Homo sapiens: one gene and its partners. The protein of the gene in region 1 purifies or fractionates together with the protein of each later gene. This does not show direct contact. Each region holds a gene or a part of one and is shown in the gene's direction. Other genes may lie near its edges. The genes, in order: CORO2B, ARPC1A, CUEDC1, PRKG1, PPP1R9A, RANBP10 and MYO6.

Region 1 (3,500 bases):
AGAGTAGGTGAACGGCTCAAGGTCACAGGTTGAATGAATGGGTGGGGAGCAGGGATTTGTACCTGGGCTGTCTGACTCCAGAGAACACTTTCATCTCACTTCCAGGCCTTTGGTCCTGGGGCATGATCGTACTCTGCTTCCACTCCCCACCAACCCCCCACCTACAACACAGTGGGCTATTGTCTGTTGTGTTTGTGGCCCTGCCACTGAGGATGTGCAGGACAAATGCTGGTTGCCTTGAGGGTGATGCCCATGGTTGTGTCCTGCTTAGATTTGCCTGTGGTCTTTACTGGAGCTAGGAGTCATGTAAATGATTCGGGGAAGGGTGCTGGGGGAGGAGGGTGTCCTATACATGGTGTTTGACATCAGATTGGGCTGCTTGGGTAGGGCATTCAGCCGAGGGCAGAACAAAGTATGACAGAGGCAGAGCCGCCTTCTCCATTTCCATGAGGCTAGCTTGGTTCAGAGAACGCAGGTCCCTGGTCCAGGCCTGCAGCCCTTACGAAGCAGCCTTTTCTCGAGTTAGCCCCTGATGATTTGGGGTTCCACTGGCTAGGAATGCTGGCTTTGAAGTCAAACACATGGCAGTCTGTCATTTACTTGCTGTGTATTCTTGGGCAAGTTGCCTCACCTCTCTGAACATCTGTTTCCTCATCCATTCATTGGGATTGATAATAGTAACAATCCTTTACTATTAAGGATTGTTATTAAGATAAAGTGAGCCGATCCATGTGAAGCACTTACCATATGCCTGACATGTAGTGTTAGCTGTTATTCTCAGGAAGACAGAAAATTAATGAGTGTCCTGGGGCTTATGAAATGAGCAGTACAGGGAACTCTGGGAATAGCAGGGGGCCTGACCTAGTCAGAGGGATGAGGAAGTGACTTTAAGTTGAGTCATGAAGGATGAGTAGGAGGTAGCAGGTGAAAGGAGGGGAGCTGAGGAGGGAGCAACAGGCCGGGGATGAATGGGCAAACGTCAGGAGTCAAAAGCCACGGACCTTGATCACTTCCTGCATGCTGGACATTGATGAGAGCATGGTACAAGTATCCACTCATTTAATCCTCAGAGTGACATCATGGCATAGGTTACTGTTATCATCCCTGCTTTACAGATAAGGACACAGGCACAGAGAAGCTAAGTCACCTGTAAAAGGTGGCCCAGTGAGGCAGGATGAGGCTGGTCCAGACCCGGACCTCCGGATTCTGGCCTCTTTCCTTCCCGCTGCCTGCTGCTTGGTGATAGGGAGGGTGGCCTGACCCTGGCTGCTTCTAAAACTGACCCAGGCAAGGGGGTGTGGAAGTGCCAAGTTCAGTTGCCTACCCCGATGCCTCACGGAGCCTCCTTGGGCTGTGTAAAGTGGCCAGAGGCCCTCCTGGCTCTCAGGCAGGAGGGAGAAGTCATTTATTTTTCCAAAAGGAAACTTTGCTCTGGCAGGAAATTTTCCACCTTATATTTTTAGTGGGCTCAATTATGACCATTTTTGTTCTTTAAATCTTTCTTATTATCTATATTGGGCCTTGGTCTTTAAAGTCAAACTATAGGGAGATATGTATACACACACACACACACACACACACACACACACACACACACACACACAATTTTTTTCTAAAGTGTTAAAAGTCCACACCAATAGTCCCAGCTACTCAGGAGGCTGAGGCAGGAGATCATCCTGGGCAACGTAGTGAGACCCCATCTCTAAAACAAACAAACAAAAAAAACCCCCTAAGTGTCTGCAGTTTGGTGTCTGCTCTGTCCGAGCTCAGAGAAGGTGGATGTTTTACATGGTGTTCATGCCACAGGCTTAAACTTACTGTCCCCTGTATGAGATAAGTGTCAACACCCCTGGAGGCTCTGGCTGCCCAGAGCGGTGGTGTGTGGAGGCTCACCCTGGGTAGGTGCTCATGCTAATTGCTGGGAAGCCTCCATGATCAGTATTTAACTCCGGAGATGTCTGAGGTCATCTGGGCCAGCACTCTGCCTGTACGGCACTCTACACTTTTTAGGAATATCACAATGATTCCTAATTTTAATTTAGATTCGTTTAAGAAATACCAATTTAATAGTAGTCAGTTCTCAGCCTTTCACCAGGTGCTAGGCCCCTGCTTTCAAGGGACCAACAGACAATAACAATAACAATAATAATAGAAGCGGCTAACCCTTCCGGAGCACTTAGTTTATGCCAAGCATATACAATATGTTTTATATGTATTAATTCATTTAAGCTTCATGACAGCCTATGAAGTCTGTGCTATTATTATCCCCCTTTCTATGGTTGCAGAAATGGAGGTCCAGGGAAGGAAGGGAGGTAACTTTTACAGTGTTCCCACAGCCAGTCAGGGACTCAGCCTGCCTCGCAGGCCTTCTGTCTTGCCACTTTGTCAGGCTGGTGGGAATGACCCGGAAATATGTGGTCCAGAGCATGGGACCTGGAGGCAGAAGACCCAGGCCTCGCTCTTGCCTCTGCTCCTTACTGTGTGACCTTGGGCTAGTCCCTGGATGTCTCTGAGCGTCTGTGAAAATGAAGTTAGTAGTCTATCTCTGTAGGGTGCTCTAATATTTAAGTAACATGGAAAGATGTAAATAAGGTGCTTTGTAGATGTCATGGCAGGAAATGGTTTATTGTGATGTCTAATCTGTGCCCACTCCTTTCCTCTTCCTCACCAGTATTTCAAGGCCCTCAGATTTAGGCAGTTCCTTCCAATAGCTAGCCCACTTCTCCCCTGCTGTAGTCCTTATTTCAGAATTGATTCATACTCTGTGGGTGGAAGAGAAAAGTTCATCTCTTCCAAACAGCCTCTATCTGTTTTTACTCTGTCAGGCTAGTTTGGTGCAGATGAAAAGTTGCTTTTCTCTCTTCCTGTTCTGTCTATTTTGGCTGTTTTAATATGCTTGGGACAAATAATCTGGCTATAAAAATGTGGTGTCCTGCTTTCATTTGAAAAGTGAGCCAAATAAAGCATCCAAACCTTGATCTGTATTATCCCGGCTCTCTGTAGATCAGAGCTCCCTGTGGAAGGCGAGGGAAGGTGGGTCCCAGAGCACAGTCCTACCTGGGTCCCTGGGCAGAAAGACCAGGTTCCCACTGTCAAATGACCTTGATCTTTGCTCCAGATACCTCCCGATGCCCCCAGCGCTCAGACCTGCTTTTCCTTTAGGTTTATGGAAAGGAATAGCCTCTACTAGCTTGAGGCATTTGCAGCAAATCATTTAAACACCTTGAGTTTGATTTCAGAACTAACAGTTTTATAATCTGGAATCTGGTAGAATCCAGGACGTGGAACGGCTGATGGAAAGAAAGGTGTTGGTGGAAGGGGACAAAGGGATTTAATTCCTGAGGATTTTTATTTAACTCCTGAAAAATTGCTGGTTATGCCTGCCCTGCTGACCTCCAGGTGAAAGACCAGCTTGCAAAAATGCATGGGGAAATTTGGGATTCCGAGAAATTTGGAATTCTGGGAAAGGGGATTTCTGCATACCTGAGTGGCCAACTGAT
Region 2 (3,500 bases), on another chromosome or scaffold:
GCAATCTTACAAATTTCTACAGGAAACTTTTCTTCCAAGTTAAGCTTCAACCTCAGTAATTGTTTACATTTTTATTCGTTGAGAATTAGTGTCAAGTATAGGTAAATTGGACTTTATTATGGTACAAGGTATTGTCTTTGAACAAGCTGTATGTTTAGGGCAGTTTCTCAGCTGTAGAACAATTATTTCATATTTCATAGGAGTACTTTAAAACAACTTCTCAGAAGTTTATAATTCAGCCATATGAACTAATTATTTTGCTTGCCATCTTTTCCTTAATTAAAAAAATTACATTATAAAGGCCAGGCACGGTAGCTCACGCCTGCAATCCCAGCACTTTGCGAGGCCAAGGCAGGCGGATCACGAAGTCAAGAGTTCGAAACCATCCTGGCCAACATGGAGAAACCCCATCTCTACTAAAAATACAAAATATTAGCCAGGTGTGGTGGTGCATGCCTATAATCCCAGCTACTTGGGAGTCTGAGGCAGGAGAATCGCTTGAACCAGGGAGGTAGAGGTTGCAATGAGCCGAGACCATGCCACTGCACTCCAGCCTGGGCAACAGAGCAAGACTCTGTCTCAAAAAATATGTATACATTATGAAACAATTCGAAATACTGTCTTTTTCTCCTTTTTTAGAGACTTTGTGGGGGATTTTGGTTTTTTATTTTATTTATTTATTTATTTTTTGAGACAGGGTTTCTCTCTGTCACCCAGTCTGGAGTACAGTGGTACAAACACGGCTCACTGCAGTCTCCAACTCCTGGGATCCAGCAGTCTTGCCACTTCAGCCTCCCAAGTAGTTGGGACTACAGGTTTGCACCACCACACCTGGCTAATTTTTTGATTACTTGTGGAGACAGGTTCTCACTTTTCTTGCCCAGGCTGATCTCAAATTCCTGTACTCAAGCAATCCTTCTGCTTTGGTCTTCCAAAGTGCTGGGAGTATAGTTGCAAGCCTCTGCACCTGGCTGTCTTTTTCAGAATGAACTTCTTCAGACAGGATACTAAGAAAGTGATTCTGTAGCCAGGCGTGGTGGCTCATGCCTGTAATCCTAGCACTTTGGGAGGCTAAGGCAGGCAGATCACCTGAGACCAGGAGTTTGAGACCAGCCTGGCCAACATGGTGAAAGCTAATCTCCTCTAAAATTACAAAAATTAGCCGGGCGTGGTGGCGTGAGCCTATAATCCCAGCTATCGGGAGGCTGAGGCACAAGAATTGCTTGAACACAGGAGGCAGAGGTTGCAGTGAGCTGACATTGCGCCACTGCACTCCAGCCTGGATGACAGAGTAAGACTCTGTCTCAAAAAAATAAAAAATAAATAAATAAAAGAAAGTGATTCTTGCTTGACCCCGGGAGGTGGAGGTTGCGGTGAGCTGAGATCACGCCATTGCACTCCAGCCTGGACAACAAGAGCGAAACTCCATCTCAAAAAAAAAAAAAAAAGAAAGAAAGTGATTCTATAGAAAGGTAATTTAGCATTGAAGGAAAGGCATTGGCTCAATATTTAGTCTCCCAACTGTTGAGCAACCAGACGTGATTGGTTTTTAAACAGCAGTTTGGGGGCAGAAATGAATTAGTTAAGCCAAAATACTGACTGGTCCTAGACATAAATCATCTTTTTTGGATGGTGCTAGCGAATTAGAGGCTAATCCCCAACATGAGGTTCTTCTAATTTCTTGGTTGTGATTTTTCAGTGAAAGAAATTAAAAAGAATTTGCAGATTCGTGGAGACTTGGGAAGGATATTAAGCTGTCTTACAACCCCAAATTCACCAAAAATTCAGCAAATCACTGAATATTCATAATAAAAATTGAAGTATTTTCAAACTTCAGTTTTTATCTCAGAGGTTAACGTCCTATGTAATCCGAAATCTCACGAAAACATAACTGAGTTAATCAATATCTATGCTTACTAATGAGGACTGCTGAAAACCAGCTGTTGTGCTGAGAACATCAGGGCCAGGAGTGGAGAAGGCCTGTTCATGGTTCTTTTCCTTTCTGTCCTTTAGCAATGCACCTTGTCAGCTGGGCGTAGTGGCTCATGCCTGTAATCCCAGCACTTTGGGAGGCTGAGGCCGGTAGATCACTTGAGCCCCAGAGTTTGAGACCAGCCTGGGCAACATGGAGAAATCTCATCTCTACAAAAAATACAAAAATTAGCCAGTCTCAGATCATAACCTGGTATCAAAAAACCTTGTCTCTGGCAGAAGGCCTGGTGACCGACAGAAGAACGTTGAATGCTCTGTTACTTTTCTATAGAATCTTTTTTTATAGAAACCTATCTGAAAAAGTTTATTCTGAAAAAAATAATATTCTGAATTGTTTTATAATTTTTTTTTAAATTAAGGAAAAGTGTGGCCTACTTAGGTATTTTCACCTGACATACATTTGTAGGTCATTTGGGGATGCTGGTTGAGTGGATAAACTGAAACAGTTTTCCCCTCTCATAGGTGGGTGAGCAAGCACATTAAAAAGCCGATTCGCTCCACAGTCCTCAGCTTGGATTGGCATCCCAACAACGTTTTGCTGGCAGCAGGATCATGTGACTTCAAATGCAGGTGGGAACCAGTGAGAACTGATAAACTTGAGCCGTGCATTCTTCATCCTTCAACAAATAATTTTAGGTTCTCTTTCTTTGTTTTTTGTTTTGTTGTGGTTGTTGTTGTTTTGAGACAGGGTCTCACTCTCACCCAGGCTGGAGTGCAGTGGCACCATCATAGCTCACTGCAGCCTCCAATTCCTGGGCTCAAGCGATCCTCCAGCCTCAGCCTCCAGAGTAGTTGGGACTACAGGTATATGCCACCACACCTGGCTAATTTTTTTAAAATTGTCTTTATTCTTTGTAGAGACGGGGTCTTGCTACATTGCCCAGGTTGGTCTTGAACTCCTGGCCTCAAGTGATCCTCCCTCCTTGGCCTCCTGAAGTGCTGGGATTACAGGCATGAGCCAGTGTGCCTGGCCTGTAAGTTTCCTTTTCTTTGCAAGGTACTGCGCTAGGCACTGTGAGGGACTCAAAAATGAGGCCTGGTGCTGTGGCTCACACCTGTAATCCCAGCACTTTGGGAGGCTGAGGTGGGCGGATCACCTGAGGTTGGAAGTTCAAGACCAACTTGGCCAACATGGTGAAACCCCGTGTCTACTAAAAATACAAAAGAGGCCGGGCGCAGTAGCTCACGCCCGTAATCCCAGCACTTTGGGAGGCTGAGGTGGGCGGATCACAAGGTCAGGAGATCGAGACCATCCTGGCTAACACAGTGAAACCCCGTCTCTACTAAAAAAATACAAAAAATTAGCCGGGCGTGGTGGCGGGTGCCTGTAGTCCCAGCTACTCGGGAGGCTGAGGCAGGAGAATGGTGTGAACTCGGGAGGCGGAGCTTGCAGTGAGCCGAGATCACACCACTGCACTCCAGCCTGGGCGACAGAGCGAGACTCTGTCTCAAAATAAATAAATAAATAAAAGTTAGCCTGGTGTGGTCACAAATGCCTGTAATCCCAG
Region 3 (3,500 bases), on another chromosome or scaffold:
CCTCGGCCCTGACTCCATCTCTTTCGGTTTCAGGTGGGACCATCCGTGAAACCGGTGCCAGGATGCACCGGGGGTGTGGATGACCGGCCGCCCAGCCCCAGCACGGCCCGGTCCCGCATGCCACCGCCCCGCGAGGACCGCTCTCCAAGGGCTGCCTGGGGCCCCGCGCCCGTACTCTCCTAACCCGGAGCTCTTGGCAGCCCATTGCTGCCTGGCTACCCGGGGAGGAGGAGGCGCAGGAGTGAGCTGCCCGAGACCGCAGGGCAAGTAAGCGGCTGACGGCGGAAAGACCCTGGGGAAGGGGCTTTGCGGCCGGCTAGAAACATTTTCCCCAAGCGGCTCCGCAAAATGACCAGCCTGTTCCGCCGGAGCAGCAGCGGCAGCGGCGGGGGTGGCACCGCCGGGGCACGCGGGGGCGGGGGAGGCACGGCCGCCCCCCAGGAGCTCAACAACAGCCGGCCTGCCCGCCAGGTGCGCCGCCTGGAGTTCAACCAGGCCATGGACGACTTCAAGACCATGTTCCCCAACATGGATTACGACATCATCGAATGCGTGCTGCGCGCCAACAGCGGCGCTGTGGACGCCACCATCGACCAGCTGCTGCAGATGAACCTGGAGGGCGGTGGCAGCAGCGGCGGCGTCTATGAGGACAGCTCCGACTCGGAGGACAGCATCCCCCCGGAGGTAGGGGCGCAGCCCGGGTAATTCCAACCACCACTGGAGGACAGCATCCCCCCGGAGGTAGGGGCACGGCCCGGGTAATTCCAACCACCACTGGAACCTCTAAGAGGACCTGGGTTACTCCGCTATCTGGGTTCTAATTAGCAAGCAGCCTTACTTCCCCTAGGGAAAAGTACCATCCGTCAGTCACCTTATTTTATGGGCAGAAATCATGCAGTCATTCAACAAACACTGAGCGCCCACTCAGTGGTGTGCGAGACGTGGCACTAGACCCTGAGTCAGGAGGCATCAGAATCAAGGTGCTTGTTAAAAATGCAGGTGCCTGGGCCCCACCCCAACATACTGAACTCCACATCAGGCGTAGAGTCCGCTAGTGGCCAAGTCAGACCAAATTTCTGCCCTCCTGGAGCTCACAGTCCAGTGTGGACTAGAAGCGCGAGTCGGGTACTGACGGCCAGAGTGGTAAGTGCTCGATGGAGACGTGGAAGCAGCAGAAAGGAGTGACTTCCCAGAGGAAGCGATGGCTAAGCCGAAACCCTAAGCTGAGACCCAAAGGAAGAGTGAAGCCGGGGGAAGGGTGTGCAGGCAAAGGGAACAGCTTGTGCAGAGTCTGGGAGGTGAAATAGTGCCTCACTGGCTAGGGAACTGGCAGCAGGACCATCTGTCAGGGTCCTAGAGTGAGAGGAGATCAATGAGGTTGACAAAGCCCTGACGCTGAGAAAAAGAGTGCGGCTGGGGCCGGGCGAGGTGGCTCATGCCTGTAATCCCAGCACTTTGGGAGGCCGAGGCAGGTGGATCATGAGTTCAGGAGTTCGAGACCAGCCTGGCCAATATGGTGAAACCCCATCTCTACTAAAAATACAAAAATTAGCCAGGCGTGGTGGTGCGCACCTGTAGTCCCAGCTACTCGGGAGGCTGAGGCAGGAGAATCGCCTGAACCCGGGAGGCAGAGGTTGCAGTGAGCCGAGATCATGCCACTGCACTCCAGCCTGGGTGACAGAACAAGGCTCCGTCTCAAAAAAAAAAAAAAAAAAAAAAAGAAAAGAAAAAGAGTGCGGCTGTATCCTGGGAGCATAGCCACGGAAAGGGAGTGAGGAATCAGACTTGCCAGTTAAATCCCTCTGACTGTGGCCTGATGGAAACAGTAGTGAGCCATAGCCAAGCAGTCTCTCCAGGGAAGTGGCTGGAGAGAGGGGACCTGCGTACTGCATCAGTACCCACCTGCTGGAGGTTGTGAGTCCTTTCCAGTCCCACCCGAGTTCAGTGGACATCTGGCCACCCAGTATCAGCAGAGCCTGAGGTGCTTGGTGCAGAAGGATGAGGCACACAGAGCCTGTTAATCAGAGGGGTGTTGTCCACAGGGCCATCTGGGACATGCAGCCATGGACAAGACCAGGACCCAGCAGGATTTAACTCCACTCTTTATTGAGTCCCGACCCGTGCCAGGCATCATCCTAAGTGCTTTAGATGTATCATATCTTCTTTTTTTGTTTGTTTTTTTGTTTTTTTGAGACAGAGTCTTGCTCTGTCGCCCAGGCTGGAGTGCAATGGCGCGATCTTGGTTCACTGCAACCTCCACCTCCCAGGTTCAAGCGATTCTCCTGCCTCAGCCTCTCGAGTAGCTGGGACTACATGCATGTGCCATCATGACCGGCTAATTTTGTAGTTTTAGTAGAGATGGGGTTTCACCATGTTGGCCAGGCTGGTCTCGAACTCCTGACCTCAGGTGATCTGCCCGCCTCGGCCTCCCAAAGTATTGGGATTACAGGCATGAGCCACTGCACCTGGCCCGATGTGTCATCTCTTCTAATCCTCACAAACTTTGTGCTGTGGCATTATTATTACCCTTGTTCATCAGCCATCCTGCAGGGCAAAGTCTCCTTGCTTTTCCTCCTTAGTGGGTGCTGCTGAGACTTCCCCTAGAGGTGGAAAAGCTCTGTTGGCCAAGACATCTGGCTCATCCCTGTGTCATCTGCAGCACCCAGGACAATCCACGCACATAGCAAGCACTCAGGGAGTGTTTGTTGAATGAGTACGTGTTGCTGCTGTCTTTGTACAGTTTTCTATTGTCTCTCTCCTTGGGAGACCACTCCTTTGATCTGCTTGGAGTAGGTGGTGGAAGGAATATTGGAAAATATGGATCCTCTTTGTAGAAAGAAGGAGAGAGAGAGAGTGAGAGTATGCGTATGTATGTGTGTGTCTGCAGATACAGTTGACCATTGAACAATGCAGGGGTTAGGGGCAGTGAATCCTCCCCTTGCAGTCAAAAATCCACTTTTTAATATAACTTTTGATTTTCCCAGAAATTGACTGCTAATAGCCTATCGTTGACCTCAAGCCTTAACTCAAGCCTTAACATAAACAGTCGACTAACATATATTTTGTGTGTTGTATGTATCATATACTGTATTCCTACAATAAAGTAAGCTAGAGACAAGAAAATGTTAAGAAAATCATAAGCAAGACAAAATATATTTTCTACTCATTAAGTGGAAGTAGATCATCGTAAAGGGCTTCATCCTCATCTTCTCACATTGAGTAGGCTGAGGAGGAGGGACAGGAGGGGTTGGTTTTGCTGTCTCAGGGGTGGTGGAGGTGGAAGAAAATCTACCTATAAGTGGACCCACGCAGTTCAAACTCTTGTTATTTGAGAGTCAACTGTATATGCTTTAAGTGTGAACTGGAAGGAAAGCTCTCTGCAAGCTCTGACCCTTTCTGCAGTCTGATTTGCCCTGACAGTCTGGCAGGTAGGGTAGTATTTTCTCCTTTGTCCATGGCCCCCACAGTCCTATAGACCTCTGCAAGGCTTCACCACCCCC
Region 4 (3,500 bases), on another chromosome or scaffold:
AAATTGGAAAAGAAGTTTTTTTTCTACTCTTTTGACAGAAGAACTATAAAATGTATTCAAACACACTCTATGACATGAAATAATAAAACTAGAACTAAGTACATTTTCCCTCTTCTAATCCACACGTGAACACAATTAATTTGGAATCAAGTTAGTTAAAATTCAGCCAATTCAGAGCATGAGATTGGATGATAGCTGTGAGCCCTGGATGTTAAACGCAGCTCTACCAAGGATTTACTGTGTTTTGACTTGGGAGGTGGCTGAGGTTCATTTAAGTGCGCCATGTACCTGTTAATTTGGGGATAATAATGCACTCTTACAAGTCTATGGGCTTTTTCTTACTCTCTTCTCTCTTTCTTTAAGGTCCAGTTGAAAAGTGAAGAATCCAAAACGTTTGCAATGAAGATTCTCAAGAAACGTCACATTGTGGACACAAGACAGCAGGAGCACATCCGCTCAGAGAAGCAGATCATGCAGGGGGCTCATTCCGATTTCATAGTGAGGTAAAGGCTCCATGCCAGGGACAGACGTACCCAACTCCAAGTGACAAATCCACCACAAAACCCTCTGCCACTTGTGCTCACTGTTAACACATTTCGTATGCACAAAGAAACTTCTTTTTAATCTAATCTTAAGAAAGTTTTGTTTGATTTCTAAAAATAAAGTTCTGACTCTATTCTTTCTTTTAAAGAGAATTAGTGTCTGAAAACAATGTGTTTTCCCAAAGGAGGTACCAGAGTTTCTAACATTCCATTTTTATCTTTTTTTAAATCCCCAAACTCTACATAGACCTTTGATGCTTAAAAGACAAAATATCCAAAATCAAACTATTTAACCTTTAATTATCTGAATATTTTTTGAAGATCTAAAAAAATGAAATGACAGCTGACCATTCCACCTCAGTACTAATAAATGGATAATGGGGAGATTTTTATATGTGGAAGCAGCTTTTTGTAGTGAATTTTCCAGTGGCATTTACTGAAAACAAGATGTAACATGAATTTGAGCGAATAGCATATGAAATTTATACATGTCTGAATCTGTAAAGTTTAATCCACTTTATTCCCATTTTCACTGCATGTTGATGACCACTAAATGTTGCCCCAAGGGTCTATGCTCAAAACATTACCCAAATTGGAATGGAAAGAATCCCAAGAAACCCTCTTTGTCCATAATCATTATGATTAATCCATTTCAAGGGAGAGATTAGCGCCTTAGTTTCTTCTATTAAAATCCTATTCATGAGCCATTGGCTTCTTTTCCCCATGTGTGGGCTTAGATCTCTCTCATTCTGACAAAATTTTGAGCTTGGCAAATCAAAACTATAATCTGGGCCCCCCAAAATTGCACACTTGTAAAAGACAGTAATGTTTATAATCTTTGTTTTCTTGTTTGCAATTTACAGACTGTACAGAACATTTAAGGACAGCAAATATTTGTATATGTTGATGGAAGCTTGTCTAGGTGGAGAGCTCTGGACCATTCTCAGGGATAGGTAGGAGATTTAAGAAATTTCTATGATATCTCTAAAAACAGTTGCCCATGTTGGTCTATAAGAAGAGTTAATATGATAAAGTATAATAATCATATTTATAATTTACACATGCTTATATTTCAATATTTAAAGTAAGCACAGGGCATAACCCACTATACACATATGATTTACTGTACATATAACAAAACTCACTTTGTAACTAACAATACAGGCTTAGTCGATCATAAAAATGGTACATAGCAAAATATATACATGGCCTTAGTTTTGCATGAATGTTAGAATTAGCTCTGTAGCTGGAATTCAATTCATTGCTTTAGCAGAAAGAGAATTATAGTTATTTTATAATTATAATTTGAATTAACTATCAGTTTAATTGCTCTACTCTTTTTCCAGATAGGCAGTTTGCCTTTTGTGACATTGTGAATTTTTTCCAAAGTAATTTTTCCCTCTACCTTTACATGGCTCTTTGGTTTCAAAATTAACAAAAGTTTCCAGCCATCTCTTTATCCCTTGGCTAGTCTTAGGAAAAAGAAAAGAATCCACTTATAAGCAATATTTCATGTAAATTATCTGATTTAGATTTACCTTCTTACCCTTCCAGGGCAAGGAAAGTTTGTCTACATGGTGCTTGTTTGTTCTAATCATGCAAATTCATTGTCTTAATTTTCCATCTCATATTTAGATAACTAGCAAATTATCTAATTATCTTCTAATATAATTTATCCTATAAAATGTCTCAGGAGATCATTATCTACCCTGTGTTTTTTTAAAAACACACTTTTATTTTCCTATGAATAATCTTTTGATTATTTTCCATGAATGATTTATTGATCATACAAAAGTCATCTTTGTTCTTTTGAACACTCACATTTAGACATCTGTATTTTTCTTATTTGTTTGAGTCCTGCCTCCCAGACTCTCCTTCACAGGGTAGCATCCTTCTGAAACTTAGCTATAGGTAGCCCTGATGTATATAACCATGTAATGTTTTTATATTTGTTACTTTGCAGATACCCCAGAATAAAACAAGTGGTTCCTTATGAACTGTTGATTTAAATTCTCATTCCTAATGGTGTTCTTATGGTACCTTCATATCTTTGTACAACAGGCCCTTTCGTGTTATTCCCATGGCCTTTCTTATATATGCCAAATGGATTTCTTGTTACCACATTGTATCCTATTGCATCGGTATTTTATTTCAATTCTTAAATTTAAGGTTAAAAAAGCATAAAAGGGAATGTAATCATGTTGGCATTAGGCGATAAGGTTAACATCTATACTAAGCTATTATATCATAGTGTATATATTATGTATTATTGCTAGTTAATATGTACATAGAGATTATATACCAGGCATTGTGATAGAGGCTGGGGATCCAGTAATAAACAAAACAGATGGGGTCTCTCTCCTCAGAATGTATAGTTTGTGGCACAAAGTTAATATTTTAATCTGTGAGTTAACATTTGGCATATCTAATGTGTTTCTACTGTATTATATTTGACTTGATATTTCAATTCACTGATTTATTTGAAGTCTTCTACTTTTTTTTCTAATTAGAATAGAAGAAGATTTACAGGTGGAATTAAACATGAAAGCAATAATAAGCCACAAAGGGAGAGCCCAGCTATCCCTCTTATAGCTTATTATTTTTTTATTTTTTCATAAGTTATTGGGGTACAGGTCATATTTGGTTACGAGTAAGTTCTTTAGTGGTGATTTGTGAGATTTTGGTGTACCCATCACGCAAGCAGTATGTACTGCACCATATTTGTAGTCTTCTATCCCTCACCCCCCTCCGACTCTTCCCCCCAAATCCCCAAAGCCCATTGCATCATTCGTATGCCTTTGTATCCTCATAGCTTAGCTCCCACATATCAGTGAGAACATGTGATGTTTGGTTTTCCATTCTTGAATTACTTCATTTAGAATAATAGTCTCCAATTTCATCCAGTTCCCTGCAAATGCTGTTAATTCATTCCTTTTTATGGCTGTGTAGTATTCCATC
Region 5 (3,500 bases), on another chromosome or scaffold:
AATGGAGTGTGCAGCAGGTTTCTCACTGGTTAATGAGCCTAAATCTGGAGCAGTATGTATCTGAATTCAGTGCCCAAAACATCACTGGAGAACAGCTCCTGCAGTTGGATGGAAATAAACTTAAGGTAAAGAATTATATGTCTGTCTTAGGTTACCAGGTATAATTTGTATTACTCATATCACCTAAAATGTTTTCATTAGGTAAGAGCATTCTGCATATCTGAGAGGTAATTCTCATCAATATTCAGCAGAAAGGATGTTGAATTCTTTCTGAGTAGTAAATGAAGTCTCAGAAAGTCCATCAGGGGTTCCAAATCAAATGGTAGGCTGCTGATTAGGAGAGTGAGGGACCCACTCCATTGCTTCCACCTGGCAACACATGGTCCATATATTAACTCTCCTTACATCTGATGTAGTATGAGTTTTAATAATGGCCACTGTGGACTTTTTCATCACATTAGAATTAAGACCCAGATCCACGAGTCTTCTTTTCCTTGTTCATTTCTCCTTCACCTCCACTCTTCCTTACACACCACTCCCAAACTGGGATGATGTTCTCCCCAGAAGTTTTTTCCCCAAATATGTACACACATCTTCCCTCCCCTCCATGGCACTTTCATTTCCACTTGTCCAGTCCATCTCTCTTAGAGACCAAGGTGGCATCCATCCCTTTGGGAAAGGGAAAAAGGTGCTTACAGCCAACTCCATGTACCCCCAAGCCCCACCCCCGCCTCAGCCCCCTGCTGGGCTGACGGGCAGACGAGTATCTCTTGACAATCTTGAAAAGGTTAGAGATCAATCAATAGCTTGTGAATATGAAGGCCTCATTGACAAGGCTGTCCCTGTTGGGGAGATAGATAGATGCATCCTGCTGTTGATTCTGAAGGTCACGAAACATTTAAAGTACATAAGCAACTCCCCTTATTCTGAATTCTAAGTTCATCGAGCAACCTCCTCATTATAATCAACTTCCTTTATAGGTCTGCCTACAGGGAAAGAATGGCTAGTCATGCTGACACGAGCATTCTGGCCCCAAAGACATTTTTGGTTCTCATTGTAATGAAAACATTGGCAGAAAGGAAGCCATTTCAATTCTTCTTGCCCTTCTTGGAGCCCTCTGTGACAGCAGGTGCTCACTCCTATGCTTTGAAAATATTGATGAGTTTAGCAATACCTTTACCCGTAAATGCCTACAGCCCAAAGGTTGGAGAAGTAGAATTGTGCCCTTTTTCCATTCATTCACCCATTAATTACTCATTTGGAAAGCATTTAATTAATGAGCTTTAGGGTATACTTTGCAAGGGACTTCAAAGAACAAAAGAAAAAATAAAGGGTAGCCCCCAGTGTGTTGGTTTTTAGCAAATGTAACTAGTTCTTCCTCTGTTCTTACCTCTTCAATGTTTGAATTAGTTTACGAACTTGGATATATGGTATGTTAACACCATCAGAGGGCTCATTGGTTTTCAAATTCAGTTTGTGTGTGTGTTTCTTTCTTAGGCTCTTGGAATGACAGCATCCCAGGACCGAGCAGTGGTCAAAAAGAAACTCAAGGAAATGAAGATGTCTCTAGAGAAGGCTCGGAAGGCCCAAGAGAAAATGGAAAAACAAAGAGAAAAGCTAAGGAGAAAGGAGCAAGAGCAAATGCAGAGGAAGTCCAAAAAGACAGAAAAGATGACGTCAACTACAGCCGAGGGTGCTGGTGAGCAGTAACACATACCCTCTTACAGATGATGGAGATGCTCCAAGAGAAGTCCCCACCTCTTCCTGCCCTGCTCTCCTCCAGAGGATGAAAAAGAAACTAAATGATAAGGGTAATGCGGCTCTAGGCCGGCTGAGGAACTGTGTGTTGAATAACTGCATTTTCTGCAATAGAATGCACTCTTAATTTTAACTACTAAAATAATCCCAAGCCACCTTTGGTTCATTAACAAACCAGAGATTTCATTTAAGTAGCTGTGTTTTGCTCTTCTCTAACTTACCAACATCTTGTGTTGTGTTGGGTGTGTTTTGTCACTTGGAGAACTAGTGTGACCCCACCCAAGAGCATGACACACCCTGGTGTTGTTAATGGAGCGCCGTGAATTTTCAGTGTGGGATCCTGAAATGGCAATTGCACATGTCTGCATGGCAGAGAGCACCCTGCCATGAGATCTGAGACCAGTACTTAACTTCTAGGACTGCAACACCTACTCCAATGTGTGGGAAAGATTTGCTCTTAATTCTCAGTCTGGACAGTGAGACCACCCCGCTGTGGAAACATGGGTGCTCTGCTCTGTAGTTACCTACTAAGGGAAAAGGCAAGCAAGTCATTCTGCTTGCTAGGCATCAAAAAGAAAGAAAATAAATTATAGCTATTTGTTAACCACTGAAAAAAGCAAAAGCCTTAAGAATGTGGATGTGGGTATTACCTTGGGGTTCTGAGGGTAATATTTATCCTCTAGATACGGCTGAACAAGAAAGAAAAAAATCAGACATTAATGCAGCCATGGGATATTGGGATCTGTTGACCTTGCTACTGCTGTGTGTTCAGCATTTCAGCAACACTGGCAAACACAACACAGTTCCTCTTCCCCCTACCTAACCCAAGAAATTGAACAGGAAATTGATTTTTAAGGAAACCACCATTTTCAGGTTTCCTCTCCTGGGGAACATTCTGGCTGGTCTTCAGCCTGCCTATGTCACAATCAGGAACTCATCACATATTTTCTACTCAAGATTTCCCAGGTGGGCTCAGTTAGTATTTTAACAAATGTACTTTTAAGAAAAATAGAAATACCAGTTAGAGGAAACTGTCAGTTAACATTTTAGAGAGATTTTGAATGGTTTTTCCGAACCATTCCTTTCCATACTTCAAAGATTCTCAATTTTACAGAAAAAGTTTGTTTAAGGCAGTGCATAGGTATACTTTAGTAGTGGAGGAACTTATACTAATTTTAAGCCAGCATTAAGGATTTCCATGTTTCACCAAACTAAGTCAAGTGCAGGAGACTGGGGCAGAAGAAGGAGAAAATAAACTCGTTTTGAGAAATTTCATGTGATGAGGGTTTTTTGTTTTTTATGCTCATGTATCTGGTTCTCTTTGCTGCGTTGACTCTAAAAATGAGGTTATCCACTTTCCAAAGGACAAGTTTCAGAATAAGACTTGAGGCCACATGAATTCTTGGACAGTATTTTACTTCTTTTACTTTATGGGAATCTCTGCTCTGTTCCCAGCATCTCGTATCTTCCACTAGAAGTATTCCATATTTAGAGCCTCGGCAAGGCTTTTGAGTGTAACAGATTAAGGGAACTCCCTTGTAGCCCCATCTTGTATTTTAATAACAGTGTGATTTTTTTTTATCTGAAAATCTGAATTCAGAAATTATCTAAACTGGACATTTTTAATTCTGTTTTACCCCCAAGGCCTGTTTTCTTTTCATTGCCAGAGTATTGTCGGTTATGCGTCAGCTCTTTTGTCATTAGGTACAGACCCTTCATTCAATCCTCAGAAACGTTGACAT
Region 6 (3,500 bases), on another chromosome or scaffold:
AATGGCTATGTTATCACAGAGACAAATTTGTCACAAGCCTTTTGGCTGGCTTCCTCTAGTGGAAGGTCAGGTAATTCCTTCTCTTTTACTTGTGTAGGTAACCCTCTTGTAGATAAAGACTTTTTCATATTTACCCTTGTGTTTATAATAATAATATGGTGTAATAATAATAATTATACTTACTTTACTTTTTTCTGAGTCAGGAGTTTACTCTATTGCCCAGGCGGAGTGCAGTGACACAGTCATGGCTCACTGCAGCATGGACCTCCTGAGCTCAAGCAATTCTTCTACCTCAGTCTCCTGAGTAGCTGGGACTGTAGGCATGCACCACCACACCTGGCTAATTTTTTGTATTTTTTGTGGGGACAGGGTTTCGCCATGTTGCCCAGGTTGGTCTCAAACTTCTGGGCTCAAGTGATTTTCCTGCCTCGGCCTCCCAAAGTGTTGAGATTACAGGCATGAGCCACCACACGCAGCCAATAATTTTTTTTTTTTTTTTTTTTTTTTGAGATGGAGTCTCGCTTTGTCGCCCAGGCTGTAGTGCAGTGGCGCAATCTCGGCTCACTGCAAGCTCCGCCTCCTGGGTTCAAGCCATTCTCCTGCCTCAGCCTCCTGAGTAGCTGGGACTACAGGTGCCCGCCACTACGCCCGGGCGTAATTTTTTTTTGTATTTTTTTAGTAGAGATGGCATTCCACCGCATTAGCCAGGATGGTCTTGATCTCCTGACCTTGTGATCCGCCCGCCTCAGCCTCCCAAAGTGCTGGGATTACAGGCATGAGCCACCACGCCTGGCCATATTTTTAAAGTAGAGATGAGATCTTGCAATGTTGGCCAGGCTGGTCTTGAACTCCTGGCCTCAAGTGATCCTCCCGCCTTGTCCTCCCAAAGTTCTGGGATGACAGTCATGAGCCATCACGCCCAGCTGATAATTATTATTTATACTATAATATTATGTAATATATCATTTCATAATAAGAAGTCTTATTTATGGACTTCTTCCTGCCAGGTACTTTATGTGTATTATCTCATTTACCCCTTAAAGCTTGAGGGAACACACACCCAAACTTCTGTGCCTTCCACCTGACAACCCTTCAGACATTTGTGTTTAGAGTTACAGTAATGACATCAGACACATGTACACACCAAGGTATTCACTCCTGTACACATCAGATTTGAGGGTTCAGCCTCTGCTTTATATGTGTACACACATGTGCCACTGTTCAGCCAGCTTCTGCTGGGGTTAAATGGCTACAGGGAGTCAGACTTCTCCAGACCATTTCCCAATGACTGTGTTCCCATTGGCCCTGCTGCTGCCTATCTCTGCCTGGCAAAATCAGCCTGATTGCTTGGCTTCTTGGGCCCCTGATTTGTGGTGTATCATGGTGTAACTCTGGGTTGTGAGTTAGCTTCCCATCACTCACTCACTAGAGCTGGAACTGCTGAGGGCAGGTTCACCTGGAGGGCTGAAATGCTTCTCTCAGGTACATGGCACAGCCTGCAGAGGGGCTCCTGTGTCTGTAGAAGGTGTGCATGTGGCATGCATCCTGTCTGGAAATCTGCCAGATTACCTGGCTAGCTGCAGTTTCGGGAAGCTATCAGTGAGACTATTGGCCTCTTAGGCTTGCTGCATTTCCCAAAGAGGCAGCCACCTGTGAGGAGTGTGCCTGTGTGTGTACTTCTGTTATCATACTCGCTTACTTGTGGGCAGCATGTCTCAGATAAACTGCAGCCACTCCTCTGAACTGTGGGCACAGATGTGGTGACCAGCCCCTCCGAAGCCTGACTTCATGACCGTGGGGCACCATGGGGGAAGTTTTCATTTTGTTTCAGCCCCTTTATTCTCATTCTGTGGAGGTTACACCTCCAGGACGTGTTTAGGGAGACCTCTGGGGGAGGTAATCTGTCCTGAGTCCATTGGGTAGTCAGTGAGAAGTGCAGTTCTTGAGTGTCACCTGAAGCTCTTCCTTTCTTCTAGCATGGTTTCATCTTACCTCGTGCATCATGGGTATTGTGCCACAGCCACGGCTTTTGCTCGAATGACTGAAACCCCGATTCAGGAAGAACAGGCGTCCATAAAGAACAGACAAAGTAAGGTTTATTCTACTTTCCCCTTTCCCTTCCTCACCTGTCCCTAACTCTGCTCTCTGGCTCATGTCAACCCTGGTTAACCTGTCAGGAGTCCATTCAGCTCTGGTCCTCATGACCAGCTTGCAGCTCGAGGCCATGTTCCTGTCCCACCTTCAAGATGGCACTGCCCAGATGGACAGTTGGCAGGATGGAGACGTCTCAGGGCAGCCTCCCTAATGCACATTCTGAAGGCTGGGCGCAGGCCAGGCCCTGGCATGGCTGGTTCCATTCCTCCATTTCCTCCCTGCTTGTTTCCTTCCCCCTGAATCCTGGATTCCTCTCAACCTCCTGTTCATGGTCTTCCAGGAAGGCTGTTTGCCTGCCTTAGTAGTTCTGCTTATTCCTAGCCAGAGAGGGGACTGAAGTGGTCAGATAGGGCAAAGCCAGTGCTCAATGGCTGCTGTGGGGGCACTACCCTCTGCTCCCCACCACTGGTCCTGCCCTTTGCAGACAACCTAAAGTCCTCCCTTGGCCAGAGCTCTCCCAGTGTTGATGCTGGCCTGGATGCTGTGTGTCTGGAGGCTCTTTCACGGAAGGAGGGGTGTTGGAAAAGAGGAAAAGGAGCCCAGTGAGGAGCTAGAAGGAGAAAAGGAGAATGAGGGCAAGTGGGTGTGGATATGCGTGTCTGTGAGTGCCTGCCTACCCCTCTCCAAGCCTGCTGTCTCTTCTGTATGTGCACGTGTCTGTCTCCCAGAGAAGCTGTGCTCAGCCAGACAGACGGAAAGGGATCCCAGACTTGGGATCTATGAATGAGAGCCTCAGACTCTGAAGTTGCTCCCAGCGAGATGCACCAGGCCCCACGGCAAGAGCGAAAAGGCAGCAGCAAGATGCTGATGGCGTGAGAGGTGTCAACATCAGAGGTGCCAGCATGAGGAGGATGGCCTCCTCTCCCAGCAGGGGGCATGCTGCAGCCCCTGAAGACCACCAGCCAGAGCCCTGGTCAGAAACCAGTGTGATTCCATTGCCATTCCCCTGTGAGGCCTGGAAGGAGAGGAGTCTGTCTGAAGAGGAGCCACTCAGGCCGCCAAGCTGCCTGGGTGCCCATCCCCAGATCATGTTGCCCCAGCTGGGGCCCTACCCTGCCCCCAGGTCCCTGGCACCATGTGCCCCGCAGGAGCAGACCTCCACATTTACCCTCCTGCCTTTGGGCTGAGAGTCTCCCCTCCATCTTCCCCATATTCTTGAGGACTCTCTGACACTTGGCAGAAACCAGGATCTGTTGGGCTGGGCAGTCAGGTTCTTTCTCCAGCCTCCTCTCCTGTGAGCATTTCAAGCTGGCGAGGCACTCTGAGCCGGACCCTACCCTGAGGCTGGCAGCATCCCAGGTGTGTGGCTGTGGGAGAGGCCTGTAGCCCTCGCTCACTGCTGTGTT
Region 7 (3,500 bases), on another chromosome or scaffold:
GCCTTGGCCTCCCAAAGTGCTGGGATTGCAGTTTCATAGAGTTTAATTATGATACCCATAATGAGATATTTCATAATAATTTGTGAACTGGCCCTTTACTAGTATAAGATTGTTGCACATTTATTAGGCATCTTCCATAATTGGACAGATCACAGATTGAGGGGCTTGATCTACAAAATAATTTTCTAGGCTAATGGTCTTGTCCTTTTACAGATGAGGGAGTCTAGTCTCAAAGAATTAAATGCTTGCTCCAGAAGGGCAAAGTCTGGATTCACACCTGAGTCATTTGACCACGAAGCCCCTGTTTTTTCCACCAGAACAGTTTGCCTTGGTTTCAGTTCACTTGGTGGACTGTTTAAACCGGCAAAACTGGTATTATGTCAAAGAATGTAATTCAAGGTTTGACAAAAGCATCCAGGAGTAGATATGATAGGCCGTGAATGTAGTTCTGGAACAAATTTAGAATCCTGTGTTTGTGTCTTCATTCTCAAGTTGACAGCCTTGAACACTGATGCTGCTGCTTTCTCATTTCTCGTATAGTTCTAGGACATTATATGTATTGTGCATGTATGTATGCTGTTAAACATATGTATGTGTTTAACTTTGATAGGTTTGTGAGAACTAGAATTAGATTGTAATGTTCCTGGTTGGGATAGAACTTTAAAATTTTCCTCTAATGAAAAAGATAATTATTTATGCAGTAGCTATCCTTTAAATATTACATAATTAATTCTCTAATCTTGAGAGGGGGGACTCGTTTTTAGATTATGATTAAATTGTCACTTAGAAACTATTAGTACAAATCTTTTCTATGGTCTGTGGAATATCCCTTGAGCCGCAATAGACATAAATGACAACAGTGAGCAAATAAGCCCATTTTTTCTGGTAACAAACTAGGAATCATGCATTTCAGCAGTAGGATGTAGTTGGGTAAATGAGCAGAAGCAAGGTAGGAAGGCTGAGTTGGGTGGCTACCATTACGGATTTTTTTCATTATTTGCTTTGAACTATTAGGAATTGTGCATCTCAAGGATATTCATATTCAACTGTAAATACAAAACCACCACCTAATATAAATTAGTAATATTACTAATATAAATTGGTAATAGATCTGTGACACACACATCAAGAAGTAGAGTTAAATAAGCTTAAGTTCTCTTTTGGAGGCATTATATCTATATGCATGTATCTATGATCTATATATGTGTGTGTGTGTGTATATATATATATATATATATATATGTTTTTTGGAGACAGAGTCTCATTCATGCCACATGCAGTGGCATGATCTCGGCTTACTGCAACCTCCATCTCCCAGGCTCAAGTGACACTCCCACCTCAGTCTCCGGAGTAGCTGGGACCACAGGTGTATGTCACCATGCCTGGCTAACTTTTTTGTGTTTCTGGTGGAGAGGGGTTTTGCCATGTTGCCCAGGCTGGTCTTGAACTCCTGAGCTCAGATAGTGTGCTGCCTCGGGCTCCCAAAGTACTGGGATTACAGGCATGAGCTACCGTGCCTTGCCGGCATTATATAATGTTCAGAGGAACCAGGATCTTTTCATTTAAAATGGTTCTGATTTTATTTGACAAATTTGAGTGGACTAGAATCTTTAAATATTTTGCAACGTCTTTCTAGTTACTGTTTTCAAAAATTAGCTTATTTTTCTTATTGATTAGTGTAAGAATGACATAATGGTTTGAGAAATGACCATAAGTCCACCAAAAGTTTTCCCTGTGAGTACTGAAGCATAAAAAGTAAAACCTAAAGAAGAAATCTGGCATCTTTAGAAATCTTGCTGGTGCTAAAGAGAGAGGAAATAATTTTTTATACAGAAGGCATGTCTCAAGTGAAACCAAAACACCAAAGCACATTCCTTCAGTGTATATTCACATGGGGTAAATATGATGCTGAGTAATGTGCACAAAGGAAACTCTTGACAAAAACACAGTCATCTTTTGAGTATGTTAGGTCATTTGTTATTTCATTTGAAAATAACCTGGCTGGGGCGTGGTGGCTCACACCTGTAATCACAGCATTTTGGGAGGCCAAGGTGGGTGGATCACCTGAGGTCAGGAGTTCAGACCAGCCTGGGCAATGTGGTGAAACCCCATCTCTACTAAAAATACAAAAATTAGCTGGGTGTGGTGGTGGGTGCCTGTAATCCCAGCTACTTGGGAGGCCAAGGCATGAGAATCACTTGAACCTGGCAGGTGGAAGTTGCAGTGCACTGAGATTGGGCCACTGCAGTCCAGCCTGGACGATTGAGTGAGACTCCGTCTCAAAAAAAAAAAAAAAAAAAAAAAAAAAGTAAGCCGCTGACTAACCTTTACAAGGTAATATATTTTCTGTGGCAGAATTTTTTGATTTCTGATCTATGTGGATGAACATCTTTTTCAACAGATATTTACTGAGGGCCCACTGTGTTTTAGATATGACAAGTGTGAACTGATTCCTCCCTGTGCTGGCATATCTTTGGATCCAGGAAATAGGAAGAGTTGCAGAGATATGAAAAAATAAATAGAAACCATCCATTTGAAATCCAAAGACATATACGTCAAAAGCTAATAACTTATATTTGGATGGCATTTTATTGCTTTAAAATATTTTTGTATGCATTTGGTCCTTAAAACAACTTGATGAAGTAGATTTAGTAAATTTATTCCTTTTCTACAGGTAAGGAAATGGAGACTCAAAAAATTAAAAATACTGGCTGCATGTGGTGGCTCATGCCGGTAATCCCAGCACTTTGGGAGGCTGAGGTTGGGAGGATCACTTTAGCCCAGGAGTTTGAGAACAGCCTGGGCAACATGGTGAAACCCTTTCACAAAAAATATTATACAAAAATTAGCTGGGTGTGGTGGTGCACGCCTATAGTGCTAGCTGTGTAGGAGGCTGAGGTTGGAGGATCTCCTGAGCCCAAGAGGTCAAGGCTGCAGTGAGCTGTGATTGCACCACTGCACTCCAGTCTGGGTGACAGAGCAAGATCCCGTCTCTAAATAAATAAATACATTACTTAAAATTAAGTAACTTGTTCAAGGTCAATGTGGCTACTTAGAAGCATCATCTCTGTGTAGTCCCAAAGTAGTAAGTCCTCCACTTTCCCCCTATTGCTTATGTATTTAACCTCACATTATGGCTTCAAGTCAGGTGGTTCAGGAAGTTCTGAAAAATTAGGGTCACTAAAATGGTGATTATTAAATTGTTACAGGTTATTTTTTAATGGAAGATAGAAGATGAGCATGATGCATCATTATGGAACTACTTTAACATTTTAAATAGATTGCTAGACTGAAATTGGTAATTAGCTTTTCTAGTTGGAGAATTTTTAAAGAACAATTAGTTAAAAAAAGGAAGGAGAAAAATGTTCTGGGGGAATTTTGAAAATAACTTTTATTACTTTGTGCATTGGTAGTGATCCGATAGTTACAACTGTCTTTGTAAAGACTCACTAAAGAACTGTGTGTGCGTCTGTGTTGGTTCCTTTATGTCTTCATTTATT

The links.
Region 2: the proteins of CORO2B (region 1) and ARPC1A purify together in Homo sapiens (co-immunoprecipitation; one large-scale study listed by IntAct). This does not show direct contact.
Region 3: the proteins of CORO2B (region 1) and CUEDC1 purify together in Homo sapiens (co-immunoprecipitation; one large-scale study listed by IntAct). This does not show direct contact.
Region 4: the proteins of CORO2B (region 1) and PRKG1 purify together in Homo sapiens (affinity purification with mass spectrometry; 2 studies listed by BioGRID and IntAct, with this or other methods). This does not show direct contact.
Region 5: the proteins of CORO2B (region 1) and PPP1R9A purify together in Homo sapiens (co-immunoprecipitation; one large-scale study listed by IntAct). This does not show direct contact.
Region 6: the proteins of CORO2B (region 1) and RANBP10 purify together in Homo sapiens (co-immunoprecipitation; one large-scale study listed by IntAct). This does not show direct contact.
Region 7: the proteins of CORO2B (region 1) and MYO6 purify together in Homo sapiens (co-immunoprecipitation; one large-scale study listed by IntAct). This does not show direct contact.

What each region holds. Positions count from the first base shown.
Region 1 is NC_000015.10:68,585,493-68,588,992, forward strand, and holds part of CORO2B (coronin-2B), read left to right. Parts: intron 1-3,500. UniProt on the Homo sapiens protein: May play a role in the reorganization of neuronal actin structure.
Region 2 is NC_000007.14:99,346,398-99,349,897, forward strand, and holds part of ARPC1A (actin-related protein 2/3 complex subunit 1A), read left to right. Parts: intron 1-2,454; coding exon 2,455-2,562; intron 2,563-3,500. UniProt on the Homo sapiens protein: Probably functions as a component of the Arp2/3 complex which is involved in regulation of actin polymerization and together with an activating nucleation-promoting factor (NPF) mediates the formation of branched actin networks.
Region 3 is NC_000017.11:57,882,413-57,885,912, reverse strand, and holds part of CUEDC1 (CUE domain-containing protein 1), read left to right. Parts: intron 1-33; 5' UTR 34-348; coding exon 349-684; exon of another isoform or gene 685-741; intron 742-3,500.
Region 4 is NC_000010.11:52,270,987-52,274,486, forward strand, and holds part of PRKG1 (cGMP-dependent protein kinase 1), read left to right. Parts: intron 1-363; coding exon 364-503; intron 504-1,405; coding exon 1,406-1,495; intron 1,496-3,500. UniProt on the Homo sapiens protein: Serine/threonine protein kinase that acts as a key mediator of the nitric oxide (NO)/cGMP signaling pathway. GMP binding activates PRKG1, which phosphorylates serines and threonines on many cellular proteins.
Region 5 is NC_000007.14:95,288,594-95,292,093, forward strand, and holds part of PPP1R9A (neurabin-1), read left to right. Parts: coding exon 1-125; intron 126-1,497; coding exon 1,498-1,710; 3' UTR 1,711-3,500. UniProt on the Homo sapiens protein: Binds to actin filaments (F-actin) and shows cross-linking activity. Binds along the sides of the F-actin. May be involved in neurite formation. Inhibits protein phosphatase 1-alpha activity.
Region 6 is NC_000016.10:67,730,061-67,733,560, reverse strand, and holds part of RANBP10 (ran-binding protein 10), read left to right. Parts: intron 1-1,976; coding exon 1,977-2,089; intron 2,090-3,500. UniProt on the Homo sapiens protein: May act as an adapter protein to couple membrane receptors to intracellular signaling pathways.
Region 7 is NC_000006.12:75,752,239-75,755,738, forward strand, and holds part of MYO6 (unconventional myosin-VI), read left to right. Parts: intron 1-3,500. UniProt on the Homo sapiens protein: Myosins are actin-based motor molecules with ATPase activity. Unconventional myosins serve in intracellular movements. Myosin 6 is a reverse-direction motor protein that moves towards the minus-end of actin filaments.